2 separate regions of the Homo sapiens genome follow, and region 1 is linked to region 2. A link means that fine-mapping ties the variant in region 2 to the expression of a gene that starts in the linked region. Tissue or cell type: prefrontal cortex. Region 2 holds a variant in brackets; the other region holds the start of a gene. All regions are shown on one strand. Distances are from middle to middle.

Region 1 (2,680 bases), 91 kb before region 2:
AGCCTGTCCGCCCATTCATCCTTTGTTCACAGATGGTTAATCTGTAACTTTTGGGGGGTCTTTTTTTCTGGCAGAGATGGGTTATTAAAAATTTCTTTGCTGGGAATGAAATTCTGACACATGCTACAACATGGATGAACCTTGAGGACATTATGCTGAGTGAAGTAAGCCAGACACAAAAGGACAAGTATTGTATGATTCTACTTACATGAAATACACAAAATAGGTAAATCCATAGAGACGGGAAGTAGATGAGGGGAGTTACCTCTGAGGGTAGACGAAACGGGGAGTTAGTACTTAGTGGGTACAGAGTGTCTATTGGGGACGATGAAAGTTTTGGAAATAGCGATGATGGTTGGACAATATTGTGTGTGATTAATACCACTGAACTGTACAGTTAAAATGGTAAAAATGGCAAATATGATGTTCTATATCTTCACACGCGTCTTTGCTGGAGCAGAAGCGAGAGGTTAGGTTCTGTCAGTGTTCCCATGGCTTAGCCTTCCCTTTTGTTTTTAGAAGAACAACCTCTATTTTTAGGGATTTTCACACAAAGGCTTGTGGGCGTGGGAAGTTCTCCCAGCTGCCCTCCTGTTTCTCAGAAGCCCACATGGAAGCCTCTCAAATTATTTAAGGTTTAGGAAATATGCCAGATTGGGAATGGAGATAATTTAATCTCTCTGTATGTTAATTTAGGGTTCTTTTTTTCTGCAACATGAGGCCCTGGAAACCTTACTTCACCCCTAGGAAAGGCAGTTCTGGGTCTTGGTGAAGGGGGTAAGGGTAATTCACCCCTACACAGCATGCCCAGAGCGCTTTCCTGGCAAAAGCAGTTCCACGCCCTCAGAGTCTGGGGTCACCTGATCACGCAGCCAGGCACACACGGAGACCCCCGGTACCGGGGTCTCGGTCAGCTTGTCCAGATTCTTCTCCACATCTGCCCAGGGGGCTGCGGGTTTCCCTGCACTCCGGGCTTATCCCGGGCTTTCTCAGTCCTGCGTGCAGTGCTCACAGCCACTCCTCAGAGCCGCACAGGGTAGGCTCCTGTCCCTAGTCCCCTGGTCCCGGGGCTGGGCATTTCCGCTGGTTGCACTGTCGAGGGGGGAGAGGCAGTGGCTGGTCACTTCGAGCCTGTGGGCTTGCGGCCCCTACTCCCTGTTTTCCCCCAGCCCTGCCCCTACCCAGGTGAATGTTCTTGTCCAGGTAGGCGCGAAGGCCCGACCCTTGCGGAGGGAAAGCCTCTGCAGCGCCTCCTCGCCACCTGGGCCCGAGACTCCCGGTGCTGGCGTGGCAGGGGTGCCCCCGCCGGGACGGGACAGCTGGGACCCGCGCAGCCGAGCCGGGGCAGCCACGTGGCGGCGGGGCGGGGACCGGGCGGGCCGGGCGCTGGGAGCTGGCTGTCCCAGGAGCAGGTGAGGGCGGAAGGGCTGTGGGGGGTGGAGAGGGTGGTCTCGGGACAGTTCCTCTCCCCGGCCCGCAGTTAGGAGCCAGGCCTGGGGTCACCTTTGCCCCCACCTCCCCGCCCAGGTGGATCCTCTCCTACCGCCGGTCACCCGCGCGCCGGCACACGGGCCTGGCCCCAGTACTTGGGGTGCGGGTCCGCGTCTGCGTGGGGTGCCAAGGGGCCCGGGTCCCAGCGTGGCCCAAACGTGAGGGTAGGGGCTCCGCGGAGGAGCCAGGTGAATGTGGGCGGAGGCCTGCGGGGCGGCCTGCGGAGGCCGCGGGGCGGCGGGAAGGGCGAGCGGAGGCCTGGGGTCCCTTGCTCTGTGCGGCGCGGGCAGCCGGGGACACCCGGGTGCTCTGGCTCCCTACCTGTCACCCGGCTTTTGGCAGGACTGCAGCCCACCAAGTCCCCCAGCCTTCCCAGCTTCCCACTGGGCTAACCCTCCTCTCCCAACCCCCCACTCAGTGCTCCGGGCGCCTTCCCTCCTCGCCAGCGCTGGCTGCTGTCCTTAGTCGCCTTCTTCCCAGGAAGATCAGCTCTAACCCTCCCCCTCGCTCTCTTCCTCCCCCTTCCTCCTTCTACCAAAGGGTCCTGAGCCCCGTCTACCTTGCAGCACTGTGCTGGGGAGAGGCGCCACACAGATCAAGGGGACAAACTCCCTCCTCCCCTCAAGGAAAGCCAGGTCCAGCGCGAAGGGGAGGGTGCCTGGGGGTGGGTTGAGGAGCTGCCCTAGTCCTGTCCAGCCTTTTCTCACTCACCCTCTTCAATCTCCTACCCTTCTCCGGCCCTGCTCCAGAAGGGCCCCAAAACAGCCTCCTCATGGCCCCTCTCCCCTCTGCTCAGGGCGCAGCTACATTCACTCACCACCTGCAGCCAGGTCTAGTGCGTCATGATGCCCTCCTCCTGGAGAGAGGGGTTCACGAGGCACTTGAGGGTGGGAGAGGAGTGTGACTCTGTGTCCTCAAGGGCTGGGCAGCAGGGCAGCTGGCTCTGACCCTCACGTATTTAAGGAGCTCAGGGAAGGAGAGAGCTGGGAGTGCCTGAGGTTCTAGGGCAGCAAGGTTTGAGCACAGGTGGGCACTGAAGGACCAGCGGGATCTACCTGGGTACCAAAAAGGTAACCCGGCCAAGTTTCCAGATGAGGTAGACAAGGTTTCTTCCTCAGCCAGGGCCTCGCCTGGTAGTTTGAACAATTCTAGTAGAGAGAAAGGATGGACAACAAGGGGAGAGGAGAGG
Region 2 (2,680 bases):
TTCTTGGATTTTTTTTCATAGCACCTTGTTTTATAGATAGAATATTCTTCTTGGATGTACCTGGAGCTACTAATTAGTGTTTTCTTCCAAATTCTCTCTGTATCCTGATTTATGTTTCTTCCAGCCTGGGTTGTTCTGTTTCTATTTATGCGTGTATTTGTTTATTTGTTGCTGGTTTTCATCACACATTGGGTGATCTTGGTTGTGGGCATGGATTTCCCCAGCTGTCGCATGGTTAGGTCTGTCTCCCTGCTGGGGCCCTACCTTGATGAGAAGTTTGTGAGTGCTGTTGATTCTTGAGCAGGGCTTTATTTGGGGTGCAAACGTCCAGCCCTGGTTTTCCTCAGTGTATTGAGATCTTGTAGAGAAGCATTCCGAGGCTTTCTTTCCTTCTCTTTTCCTCGGTATTATATTCTCCATTTTCTATGTTCTATGTTCCAGACATTCATGGGAACCTTTCATCTACTTAGGGTCCTCCTCCCAACTTCTCTTTGCTTATGGGAATTTATCTACTTTTCCCCTTTACTATGCTCTTAATAGGATCTTGGAGAGGAGGGAATGAGAGGAAAGAAAATGTGCCTAACAGGCCGTTAAAAACAAAAACAAAAACAACAACAACAAAACCTTAAAAGTTTTCACGTTTCAAAATGATCATTGTAGAAAATTGAGAAAATATAAACAGTCAAATAAAAATGACCTGTTCTTTTATCACCCAGAAATAACATTGTTAATGTTTTAAAACATGTTCCAGTTCCTTTTTCTATATATTTTTATAATAATGGGATCATACCATGTGTTCTGTTTTCTAATATGCGTCTTAAAACTAAGCAAAAGCTTCTAAACATCTTTCCATGTCACAACATATCCCTTACAATATTCTGAGACCTAGTATTTATTGAAAGCTATATCATCACTTATTTAACCAACCCTCTATTTTTAGACATTAGGTTGTTTCTAATTTCCACTATTCTAAACAAGCGTTTATAAACACGCTGGGCTAAATCTTCCCTCATAGCCTTGACTACCTACGATGGGTAAAGTCCTCATAGTGGAGTTGCTGGGTGACAGTATATGCACCCCATCCGCGGGCCAGCATTCAGGGTTCTCTCTGAAATACACCCCCCTACTTTCACTTTCTGGTTCCAAACTGTCACTTCACTGCACTTCGCTTGGATTCTGTGAAGCATTGTAGCAGAGGCATTAAGAGCATAATTTTCAGAGTCAGACAGACCAGGGTTGAATCTTAGCTTTGCTGCTTATTAAATGTGTGACCTTAGGCTGTTTTAATTAACCTCTTTGAACACTTTTCCATAAGATGAGGAAATAATTCTACCTTTCTGATGAGGTTGTTATGAGAATTAAACAGGATAAAAAAATGCATGTAAAGCACTTGACACAGGCCCAGGCAGTTTGAAAGTGTTCACAAATCATGGAGTTAGATTCATTCCCATCCCTAAGCCCATTCAAATCCCTCTTTCAAGGCCACATTCAAGATACAACCCCCTCCACGGGTCTTTCCTGACCAGGGCAGCCCATCACACTGAGTTGTTATGGCACTTGTGGGCTGGATCCTCATCCGATGTTCAGAACACCCTGTCTTGTTGCTTTCATATATTTGTTTGTATGGGAAGAGGCAACATCCCCACTTCACCATGCAGCACTGTGCTGT[G/A]GGTCCCTCATGGATTAATTCATTTTCATTAGTGTTCTTGCAGAAGAGAGGTGATGATGAAAAGGAGCTTGTGACTCCATGTCAGTGGCATCAGGATTGGTTTTTTTGGAGTTTATTTCAAGCCCTTTGGTAGCTCAGGGGCTTGGAGGATGGTACCTGACCCCGAGGACACAGGAAGCTCCCATGGAATCAGCAGGCAGCAGAGGCAGGGAAAGCTGCTGAGCAGGAGGCTGCCAGACCTTTGTAATGCTGAGCCTCTCCAGGGCATTGTCCCAGCTCAGCAGGCAGCGCAGGACCTCTGTGTGCCTTGCAAGCCGCTTTCCTCCCCCCTGGTTGCTTTGCGCTGAGCGGTAGGATGCTTTTGGAGCTGGGAGGGCTTTCCTCCTGAGCCTCCTCCAACCCACAAAGGTGCCTTTCACGCCACAGGGATGCCTCCCTAGTTGCCAGGGGAGATTGAAAAGCAGCCTATGCGCAGAGCTGCAGCTGGAGGGCTTGCGGTGGGACAGCTTCCAGGAGAGGGTCCCGCAGGAGAGGAAGGGGCAGCCCTGGGGAAGGCGATGCGTGGAGGAGGCTGCTCACCCCATTCCCCATCTGGGTGTCTTTCAGGAGTCATGGCCGGCTTCAACATGGGGGGCGACCTCAGGGAGCCTGCCGCCAGCATTCCCCTGGGCTCCCTGGCAGCTGTTGGCATCTCGTAAGTTCCCCTCATGGCAATCAGTCTGAGCTAGAGAGTGGGAGAGAAAACCCCAGGCAGAAGAGGGATTGCCCCTTTTGTTCTGAGAGTGCCCCGACTGTGACCAATCTATTTCATATTCCGATCCTTCTTTTAACACTCGGTGGGCTGGAAAATTCACGTCTGGTGGGTTCAGACACTGCCCTTTCATGCGCCCTGCCTGGGAATGCTGCCGAGGAGGAGTGTCGGGACCCAGATCACAGATCGAATCCTTTCTTTCCTTTCCTCGGCCTCCCGCCCCCGTCCCTCCCCCACCCCCATTTTGAACTTGGGGATTT

Direction of the effects. Alleles are on the strand shown, and positions count from the first base shown. SD is a standard deviation of normalised expression in the study named.
With allele G in place of A in region 2, the expression in prefrontal cortex of the gene that starts at base 1,364 in region 1 is higher (moderate effect, 0.58 SD a copy in CommonMind).

Evidence for each region. PIP is the estimated chance that this variant, and not a neighbour inherited with it, causes the effect.
Region 1: it holds the start of SLC12A8, and the variant in region 2 is fine-mapped to the expression of SLC12A8 in prefrontal cortex (CommonMind, PIP 0.95).

What each region holds. Positions count from the first base shown.
Region 1 is chr3:125,211,432-125,214,111 of GRCh38, reverse strand. SLC12A8 (solute carrier family 12 member 8) reads left to right here and starts at 1,364. Exons shown (of 14, transcript NM_024628.6): 1 at 1,364-1,412. RefSeq lists silencers at 1,283-1,432, 1,473-1,692, 1,703-1,752 and an enhancer at 1,644-2,243.
Region 2 is chr3:125,120,282-125,122,961 of GRCh38, reverse strand. It overlaps SLC12A8 (solute carrier family 12 member 8), which reads left to right. Exons shown (of 14, transcript NM_024628.6): 7 at 2,276-2,363. Among named protein-coding and RNA genes, the nearest start is that of MIR5092, 30 kb to the left of the region's middle. RefSeq lists enhancers at 1,022-1,241, 1,447-1,952, 1,953-2,459, 2,462-2,511. The variant G/A (reference allele first, on the strand shown) is at 1,670.